2 separate regions of the Homo sapiens genome follow, and region 1 is linked to region 2. Evidence: fine-mapped expression QTL. A gene starts in region 2. The other region holds a variant in brackets. All regions are shown on one strand. Distances are between the middles of the regions.

Region 1 (5,336 bases), 37 kb before region 2:
TATAATCTCTTATGGAAAGATGAAATGGAGGCTAAGTTTTTTTTTGTTTGTTTTTTGTTTGTTTGTTTGTTTGTTTTTGAGACGGAGTCTTGCTCTGTCACCAGGCTGGAGTGCCGTGACGTCATCTTGGCTCACTGCAACCTCTGATTCCCTGGTTCAAGCGATTCTCCTGCCTCAGCCTCCCGGGTAGCTGGGATTACAGGCATGCACCACCATGCCCAGCTAACTTTTGTATTTTTTGTAGAGACAGGGTTTTGCCATGTTGCCCAGGCTGGTTTCAATCTCCTGACATCATGATCTGCCCAACTCGGCCTCCCAAAGTGCTAGGATTACAGGCGTGAGCCACTGCACCTGGCTGTAGGCTAAGTTTTTAAGTCCAAGGCTGTGAATGGTTGTTGTTTTTGTTGTTGTTGTTGTTGTTGTTTGAGACGAAATCTTGCTCTGCTGCCCAGGCTGCAGGCTGGAGTGCAGTGGCACGATCTTGGCTCACTGCAACCTCTGCCTTCCAGGTTCAAGTGATTCTCCTGCCTCAGCCTCCTAAGTAGCCAGGATTACAGGCATGCACAATCACGCCCAGCCAATTTTTGTATTTTTAGTAGAGACGGGATTTCACCATGTTGGCCAGGCTGGTCTTGAACTCCTGACTTCAGGTGTCCTGCCCACCTTGGCTTCCCAAAGTGCTGGGATTGCAGGCGTGAGCCACCGCGCCTGGCCGAATGGTTGTATTTTCAATGGAAATATCCTTTTGGCATTAGAAGCATATCTTATTTTTTATATATAGATAAAATTTTGTGATTGATGGAACTATTTATTTGGTTTACGTTCTAATTTAAGAAGGGAGATATAAATCTAATGAATAATGCTTCACATGATCCCCCAACTTGTGCTTCCCCACCCTCATCTCCACTTTTTCAGATAAGTAAGCCCACAGTTGAAAATGATTTAAAAACCCAGAAGATGGGGCAGCTCAGAGACTGGTTTCCTAATACACAAGACCTAGCAGGAAATGATCAAGAAAATATTAGGCATGCAGATAGGAACAACTCTGATGATAATCATTTGGCTTCAGAAGATACTAGTGCCAAGCAAAGTGGTAAGATAATTGTGTTTGATTGTAATTATTTCACTGATTATTCCTTGTTTTCGTCCCCTGTAGCTTGCTAGTTGAAGAAAAGTTAGAAGTATGTTAATAGATTTTGTATTGTATCCAACTTTGTCATTGACTTAATAGGTGAGCATCTGGAGAAAGATCTGGGGAGAAGATCCTCAAAGCCACCTGTAGCAAAAGTCAAATGTGGTTTGGACTTAAACCAGCATGAACTTAGTGCTATACAAGAAGTAGAGTCACCAGCAATTGGCAGAACTTCTATACTAGGTAAATAGATGCTTTGATAAAACAAGATTTTTAAATAATTTGCCAGTTTTCTACTTTTTTTTTAGATGGAGCCTTGCTCTGTTGCCCAGGCTGGAATGCAATGGTGTGATCTCAGCTCACTGAAACCTCTGCCTTCTGGGTTCAAGCAAATCTCCTGCCTCAGCCTCCCGAGTAGCTGGGATTACAGGCGCCCGCCACCACACCCAGCTAATTTTTGTATTTTTAGTAGAGACAGGGTTTCACCATATTGGCCAGGCCGGTCTTGAACTGCTGACCTCAGGTGATCTGCCTGCTTCAGCCTCCCGACGTGCTAGGATTACAGGCGTGAGCTACCGCACCTGGTCTACATTTTTTCAGAGTGCTAAATGTTTTTTGTTAAACTTATAGCAGAAAAAGGAGATGGAAAAAAAAAAAAGAAACCTAGACTGACTTTCATGAAAAGGAAAAAATGGCTTATTTAAACAGTATTTAAAATTTGGACTTAAGGAAATGTGGCATTGGTAATAACTATGACTATGTAGTTTCTTTATCTTGTATATGGGGAAAACAACTTATTGTAGGCAAAAATTTTTTGGTTTTCCATCTTCTGACAGTCTTGCTCCCCGTTTCCTTTCATGTCTGCCTTCTAAATGTGTTTCTTTTAGGATACACTCAGGTTTTTTTTTTTTCTCTTTTCCTTTGTCACTTTCTACTTTCCTACCTTCACTGTTCTGTTCTTTTCTTATATTTTTATAGGATTATTATGCTTAAATCCTGGCTTTGTGGTCAATTAGATATATTTATTCACTGTACTACTTTCTACATCCAGGTGTCAGAAAAAAATAATAAAACACTCATCCCTGTAATTCTTTTTTTTTTTTTTTTTTTGAGACAGAGTCTCGCTCTGTCGCCCAGGCTGGAGTGCAGTGGCGCAATCTCGGCTCACTGCAAGCTCCGCCTCCCAGGTTCACGCCATTCTCCTGCCTCAGCCTCCCGAGGAGCTGGAACTAGAGGCACCCGCCACCAAGCCCAGCTAATTTTTTTATATTTTTAGTAGAGACGGGATTTCACCGTGTTTGCCAGGATGGTCTCCATCTCCTGACCTTGTGATCCGCCCGCCTCGGCCTCCCAAAGTGCTGGGATTATAATCTTGAGCCACTGCGCCCGGCCCCATCTCTGTAATTCTTAATAAATAGTCTTATGTGAATTTCATAATTTTTTTTAGAATTCAGATTCACTAAATAATTTTCTCGATCAAATTTATCAAAATAAATTATTTTTTAAAGGGGAACATTAGCTTTGTCAATAGAAAGGTACTTAGAAGTTGTATCCCCATTAGTATAGTAGTTGAAAAAAAAGCTGTAATGTTAATATTAGCTGTTTGATCTTCAGCTATAAAATATTGTACCTGTGTTTCTGAGCATTTGAAAGAATTAAGGGAGGTATGCCAGGTGCAATGACTCACACCTGTAATCCCAGCACTTTGGGAGGCTGAGATGGGAGGATCGAGACCAGCCTGGTGTAATGCAGGGAAACCCCCTCTGGTGGCGCTTGCCTGTAGTGTTCAGCTACTTGGGAGGCTGAGGTAGGAGGCTCACTTGAGCCCAGGGGGTTGAGACTGCAGTGGTTTCTTTTAAGTCTAGGAGTAAGTCTAAATAAGTCAAGACCCCTAGGTAGGTGAACTAAAATCCCTACCAAAACCCCTGGTAGGTGAACTACCAGGCCCTCATGATCTTTCTCTTCCTCCCTTCAAGACTTAGTAAGTGTCATTGGTTTGGTAAACTTATTCAGATTTCCTTCTCATGAAGTCTTGGTCTCATCATAGCCTTTACCATACTTCTTAGGGTAATACTTCTATCATCATATTACATGCAAGTAATTTAAAAAGGGAAATAGCGCTGAAAGGTATAACATAAAACAGCAGTTCTTCCTGCCCCTACACACC[C/G]TTTAATACCACTCACTAGAGGCAGTTACTTTTCAAGTATTTTAAGTATTTCTTCTTGTATTTACTTCCATAGTTGCAGTGGGTTTAAGCAAAAATTAAGCTAAATTGTCATTATGGTGATACATAGACCTTTTTTGCTGCGGAGTCCATTAGTATATTATGTTATTATATTTTATTTTTCTAAACTTTTTTTCATGTAGTAAATTGTCTTATTTATTTAATTTGCTTAAAGTTTTTAGAGTGTCTGTCTTTCCACTCTCTACTACTTCAGTTAAATACCTCTCAATATAATGTAGTTTGTACTATTTTCTCTTTTTGTGGAACACCTTTTAGTTGGAAGTTGTATGGGCCGTGCTATGCATTCTTAACAAGGGTGTTTTTTCCCCCAGAGGGATAAAAATTGGTTCTTGGGGAGGTGAAAAAAAACTTTTACTATTTATATGTACAAAGCACAAATATGCATAAATAGATATACAGTATATTTGTGGTTATTAAAACTGAACGGGGGTAGAGGCAGTTTAAAAAGGAAAAGTCTAAAAAGACTCCTTAAGGGATGATAAAAATAAGGTTGAGAAATACTGATCTATATTGATCTTTCCATTTTTTCTTCTCTTTCTTTTTCTTTGGGTTTTGTTTTGTGGGCTAATTTTCTTAATTTTGTGTTCTGACTTTTCTTTTGAACTTTTGATGATCAAATTGTAGTTTCTAAAAGGTTACTCTTTTTCTCTGATTATTTTCTTTTTTTATAGCATCCTGCTATTGTTTCATGGATGCAGAATGTTGTCTACTTTAAATATTTACAGTGGATTTTTTGGTTTGGGTTTTTACATTTTTTAGTTCTTTCATTTTTTTGTTGTCTCTGTCTTATACTTTAGAACCTTTCCTCTAATGTCTTCATATTTGAACGGGATGCTAAAAGGCCAATTGGAGGTTCTCTTGGGGTGAGGGGCTATATGTGCTGTTGGACTTTATTGGAAAAAGTATGGCTTTGTAGTGAGGACGCTCACCTTAGTATCTGTAGTTCCATTCCTTGAGAGAAGTTTAGTTTCTTCAAAGAAATACCTTTTAAGCTTGATATAAGCCTGGCTGTTGATATTATTGAGCCAGACCTAGGAGATCTGGATTGAGGATGCAGACTTTAACACCCTCTGATTTCCTTATGGCATTCTGTCACCCCCTTCCACTCTTGCCTGCTTTCTGTGCCTGATCCCCTGGACCCCAGAGTGTATCAGATTCGTTTTCTCCAGAGAATAAACCTTTAGTTTCCTCTGGGGATGATGTTGATGGACAGGGATCTCAGGAGAGGGATAACTCTTCCAAGTGCATAGTCTTAAATGTTCTGTTTTTAGTTTCCTGCTGCATGTATTCCTTTTGTAGTAGTGCCTAGCGCCCTTAATTCCCAATTTTTGGGGCGATGCTTTATCAAAATATAACCTTCAAAGAGGTGCACAAATCATGTTTGTTTCATGTAAACACCACCAGGTCAAGAAGTGGAACATTAGAGAACCCAGTAAACACTTCTCTTTTACCTTCCCAGTTATCATCCCCTGTCTTCTAAACCATATCTTGATTCCTATACCACAAATTAGTTGTGGTTATTTTTGAACTTTATATATAAATTATGAATGCATGTTATAATGGCTGGTAAATTCTCCACGAATTTTCTTTGTGATTAGTCAATACTGAGGCATAATCTGATGTGGTGAGGTAGCAGCATCATTAAAAGCTTAGTAAAATTGAATACAAATAATATAAAAGCTTGACTGTGAAAGGTAAGGAATTATTGCTATATACAGTAAGTCTTTAAGAGCTTAGATTTCTACCCATAATATAAATTGGCACTTTAGTTCTAGCTATTAATAGTTCCAGAAATTGAAGTGGAAATATTTTTTCCCCCCCAGGTAAACCAGGTATTTATGAAGACAGAGACCCCCTGCGAGTCTCAATAAGCCGAGAACAAAGTTTCTTTGGGAGCCCACTGGCCCATGATCCGTTTAGTTGTCTTCAACTGGTTGGCCAAGAGAATGTCTGTGGTGA
Region 2 (5,383 bases):
CTGGAAGAGATGCTAATATGACCCAAAGAATACATTTTTTCTCGACGAATGTGTCCCATAATATATTCACATTTTGAATTTAAAGTATTTGCAATGCTATTATATCAATCTATGTAACTAGATAAACTTGGAAGGTCAGTGAAATCTAGTTTTCCTTCTTTCCCAATTCCTGAAAATTATCTTTACTGTCACTCATTATATACAATAGTTTCTCATAATTCAGATACAATAAACATGATTGAATCCACTCACCTTCGATTTGCAAGTTCCACAGCATCAGATGTCACATGGTCAAGAGAATCTATTCCTGATTTATCCATCAATTGCTCTTTGTTTTAAACAGTTTTCTGAAATTATGAAATTTAGTAAATATGACAAAGCTTCCCTAAATATTGACAGTATCTACTACAGTGTTGAACGTGGTCAGACTATGCCAATGATTTCAGGCGAAATCATTTACCAAGGTTAAGCTTCTTATCCATTTCAGATCAGTTTCTTTAAAAAGAAATCCAGAAATTCTATTCACAGGTTCTTTCAGTTGTTACCCTCTAAATGTATTCAACGCAACAAGATTCCAAAAAAGTACCGTCCCTTCCAACAAAAGCATCTTTCAATATAAGTAAAAAATGTAGTTTTATCATTAGCCACATATTTTAACGTACAATTACCAATACAGTATTAATGTACAATTAAAAGCCGTTTTCCAAGATCAAAGGGGGAATTCCTAAAGCAAAGTGTGCCCTATATAAACCAGGAAAAGGATCTCCAATCAATAAACCATTTTAAACTCCTAATCACCTCTCCATTATAATTCCTAGATTCTTCATTCCTAGATTCATTTAAGCAACTGAACTTTGTCATATTGTATCTTTGCCATTATTGGTGGAAACTGACAAGTTCTGAATTCTCAACCTTTTTCAATGAACTATCATAATTCTTGTGTCTTCATCCCCATGGTAGAGAGTATACAACATACCAAAAAAAAAAAAAAAAAAAAAGAAAAAGATTCCTTCTTGTGAGCTAAAAGAAAAAAGAAAAACAGGTTGGTCTGGGTGGCTCAGGCCTGTGTAACACAGCACTTTGGGAGGTCGAGGCGGGCGGATCGCTTGAGCCCAGGAGCTCAAGACCAACCTGGGCAACGTGGTGAAACTCCGTCTCTACAAAAAATACGGAAATTAGCCAGAATAGTGGCGCGCGCCTGTGGTCAGGAGGCTGGGGTAGGTGGAATACCTGAGCCTGGGAGGTGGAGCTTGTATGTAGTGAGCCTCAGCAACACAAGGAGACCCTTGTCTCTACAAAAAATTCTTAAAATACTGGCTAGGTGTGTTGGCCCGTGCCTTTGCTCCCAGCCACTCGGGAGGATCGCTTAAGCCGCGGTGGAGGTTGCTGTTAGCCGAGATTGCACCACTGCACTCCAGCCTGGACGACAGAGCAAGACCCTGTCTCAGGAAAAAAAAAAAAAAAAAAAAAAAAAAAAAAAAAGGCATGGCAACAAAAATTAAAGATAACTACTTATTTCATTATTGTACATGCCTTAGTCAATCTCTTGTCTCATTCTGTAGCTTCTTGGGACCTGACATGAGTCATTACATATAAATCCTAGGATGAACTAGCAAAATATTTAAAATATGAAACGATAAGGTCACCAAGAGCTCAGATTTGTTAAATGCCCCCTGTGGTATTTTCCTGGTACAAGGTCTTACTAGTTTTTTTAAGTACAAGATTCTACAAAGTCATTAAATATCGAATGCTCAAAAACGGAATTCAACAAAAATTTGCCCCCATGCTTTAACGGTATACCTGTAGTTAATTTTTTTTAAAAGTAGGGATTATCAAAATAAAGCTAGCTCAATAATCACTTTTTCGAAGTGTTTAGAAGACACTCCTACTTGGGTGTCGATGCCTCCGTGGGGATTCTGCAATTCTTAGAGGCCACGTGGGCAGAGAGCGGCGCTTTACCCGGAGCTAACGCTGTGACCACCAGCGCCTCTCACCCGGCAGCGCCTAACCTGCAGAAAACCGGCGCGAGTAATGGGTACCTCACATACGAAGGTTAAATCATTTAAATCACGTAATAAGGTTAAACTTGTCCGCAACACGATTTAACACCTCCATCTCAAGATATAATGAAGCCCGTCCACACTACAACCACGTTTGTGTGGGACTCATACCAGCCGCGTGGCGCGGAGTGGCCTGCGGCCGTGATCCCTTCACCCTCTCGGACCGACTTCGGAGTCTCGATCCTCCGGACCAACGAAGGGGCCCCGGGAAACCCCAGATATGCAACGCCTCCCCCGCCCGCCAGGCCCGGACGGCCTCGCCCTCTTAGCAACCTACCTAAAACGGCCTCGCAGTGGCCCCAACCGCGCACTTGCTGCTTGTAACCCAGGCCTCGGCCCAAAACCCGCGACTGGCCTGGTGTCCTAGAGCTCTGTACACACCACCCTCCCGACCTCAGCCCTCCAACTCCCGATAACCAGCCGACCTCCTCCAACCGTGCGGAAGAAAAGGGTTGGCTATTTCCGTGGCCCAAGTAATAGTCAGGCCGAAATCTCGCGATACAACTTAGCTTCCGGGAAGAAGGCGAGCGGTGGGAGGAGACGCGACGTGGGGGCGCCATTTTTCTCGCCGCGCAGGGAGGACTGACTAACGTGGGCGGAGCTCTAGCTCGCGTATTCTGAGGAGGCGGGGTTGGCCTAGGCGAAGATCCGGACTCTGGGTGTTTTGCTACCGTGACCGTTTAGGTGAGTGGAATAGCCAAGAACATTTCGGCAAATAACAAAAACAAAACGTGCGGTCACTTGTGAGTGGATGAGAACTGTGAGGAAACAGCCTCTCAGCCCGGTTCGTTTCCGGTGGTCTCGCGTTTGCTGAGCTGTCGCCTGGCTTTCTAAATCTGGTCCCGGGTGTGTGGCGAGGGTGACGGGTGGGATGTGTGCCTGAGTGTTTTGTAATCCTTTGTCTATTTCTGCCTTCAGAAACCCTTGTGTGTTAAAATATTGGAGAAGGCTCATTCTTTGACCATGACTCGAAGTGTGTAACCTTTGTGCTGGACGCCAGTGTTATTCCATAGCACGCCCAGGTCTCCTCCCCACTTTTGCACCTGTTTCGTAAGCTCACCCTTTCTGCCTCCCAGGAGTTGGCTAACATGTCACAAGTGAGACCTGTGGAGGATTTGTTTTTCCTAAGTTTCCTCCTACATCCCCCCTGCCCCACACCATTAGTTCCTTGACCGGTTCCTGAGTTAAGATTAAACAGTGTAAACTAGTTTAGTTTTGGTGGGGTTTTTTTCTCCCAAAGTAATTTTTTTTTTTTTGAGACCGAGTTTCGCTCTTGTTGCCCAGGCTGGAGTGCAACGGTGCGATCTTGGCTCACCGCAACATCTGCTTCCCGGGTTCAAGCGATTCTCCTGCCTCAGTCTCCCCAGTAGCTGAGATTACAGGCGTGCGCCACCATGCCCAGCTAATTTTTGCATTTTTAGTAGAGGCGGGGGTTTCTCCATGTTGGTCAGGCTGGTCTCAAACTCCCGACCTCAGGTGATCCTCCCGCCTCGGCCTCCCAAAGTAATTTTAAAAAGGAATGAACTGGTTTGATTTTTCCGCTTTCAAAATTCTGTTTTCATATGATAAACCACAAAAATCAGTAAAGCTGTCTAGTCTTATTTTATAGTTCACATTTTAGGATTGAACGGGCCTTAAAAGTAATCTGGTCTCTTTACCTGCTTTGCTCCATAGTTTGGACAATTCCGGGGATAAAAAGTCCGATCCTTTAGGCAGCCCACTGCATTTGATCCACAGGGTCTGGGCAATGACGAAGCTCCAGGACTGGTATGGCATGTCCCTCACTGCCGTATTCAGCAGCAAGCCTAGCTGTGTAATTTGTGAGGCTCAATGCAAAATGAAAATGCAGCGTCCCTTGTTCAAAAAGAAGGGGAAAAGTGCTATTAAAGGGAAGGAACATTTAACTCCTAATGCAGAATCATTGAAATTTCACATTTCATTTTGTATTTTTTCTTTTTTCTTTTTTTTTTTAGAAACAGAGTCTCGCTCTGTCGCCCAGGCTGGAGTGCAGTGTGGCCCGATCTCAGCTCACTGCAACCCCCACCTCCCGGGCTCAAGAGATCCACCCACCTCAGCTTCCCAAGTAGCTGGGACTACACGCGCCCGCCACCACAACCGGCTAATTTTTGTACTTTTAGTAGAGACCAGGTTTCACCATGTTGGCCAGGCAGGTCTCGAACTCTTGACCTCAAGTGATCCGTCTGCCTCGGCCTCCCAAAGTGCTGGGAGTACAGGCGTGAATCACCGCGCCCGGCCACATTTGGTATTTCTCTGTTTGTGTTATAGAGACAGGGTCTTGCTCTGCCACCCAGGCTGGAGTGCAGTTGAAGCAGGATATTCCTCTGACCCCTTCGTGGGTCTTGCGGCTGCGGTGCCTCACTTACTTAGCCCACGGCTCTCAACTCCTCGCGGGAGGGGGGGCGCGAGTGAATGAGGCGGGAACTGGAGTGCTGGAAGCCACGAACTCCAGTCACCCAGGCCTGCTGCGCTCCACCCTTTATGGGAGGGTGCGTGGGGGTGAGCAGATGCTGGAGCCGGAGCGAGCGCTTTTGGTCGCCGGTAGGAGCGAACTCCATGCAGGCCCTGCGGCTGTGTCTAGGGGATGCCCGCGACCCCTGAAGACCCACAGCCTGTCTTACAACCTGTCATGGTTGTGAAAAGTTTTGAGAGAACGTCTGCACAGTGTCTAACGGTGTCTGGTATATAGTGTGCACTCAAATGGTAACCAGTTTAGTTGCGATAGTTGGTCTACCCCTCCAGGTGTTAACCTCTGCAGCTCCGTTTCCCTTCTAGACCCTATTTCTGGGCCATCGACTCCCACCAATTAGGCAGGAAAATACTGTTTGCCTCCATCTGGCCCAAGGCTGTATTCCTGGAGTTTATGTGAGAACCTAACTCCTTTCTCAGCTCCAACTGTAACCCTCTCCCCACCTCCAACACACACATAAACACTCACATACACATGCTACCACACTGCCTGCTGTGCCATCAGCCTGCCTGAAGTTCACATCATTTTAGAATTGGACGGGCCTTCATAATTTAAATTTTATTATGAAAAAGTGATAGTCTAAGGAACTCATTTGATTTTTTTGTCTAAATGTCAAATATAGAGTAGAACGCACAAGTGTCTGTTATAGAAATACTTGAGAGTCCTATATGCACTGTTATCCACAACCATTTAAGCACTTATCCACTAATCCCTAATAAGTACCCCTAATAAGTACATTTCTAAACCAGTTATTCAAGCTACATCCTCCCAAGATTGGACTTTGTTTCTACTTTGGTAGGGACATAAATAAACGGAAACAACTGACCTAACTTTT

What was found. PIP is the estimated chance that this variant, and not a neighbour inherited with it, causes the effect. A credible set is the group of variants that fine-mapping cannot tell apart.
Region 1: its variant is the best candidate, but not a certain one, in a credible set for the expression of TAF1D in whole blood (TOPMed, PIP 0.56).

The regions. Positions count from the first base shown.
Region 1 is chr11:93,701,545-93,706,880 of GRCh38, forward strand. It overlaps CEP295 (centrosomal protein 295), which reads left to right. Exons shown (of 30, transcript NM_033395.2): 16 at 916-1,093; 17 at 1,232-1,375; 18 at 5,201-5,336. Among named protein-coding and RNA genes, the nearest start is that of SNORA25, 26 kb to the right of the region's middle. The variant C/G (reference allele first, on the strand shown) is at 3,300.
Region 2 is chr11:93,738,985-93,744,367 of GRCh38, forward strand. TAF1D (TATA-box binding protein associated factor, RNA polymerase I subunit D) reads right to left here and starts at 2,511. Exons shown (of 6, transcript NM_024116.4): 1 at 2,338-2,511; 2 at 253-347. The coding sequence starts at 320. C11orf54 (chromosome 11 open reading frame 54) reads left to right here and starts at 2,688. Exons shown (of 9, transcript NM_001286069.2): 1 at 2,688-2,744. RefSeq lists enhancers at 1-133, 2,171-2,680, 2,809-3,494, 3,261-3,380, 3,901-4,440.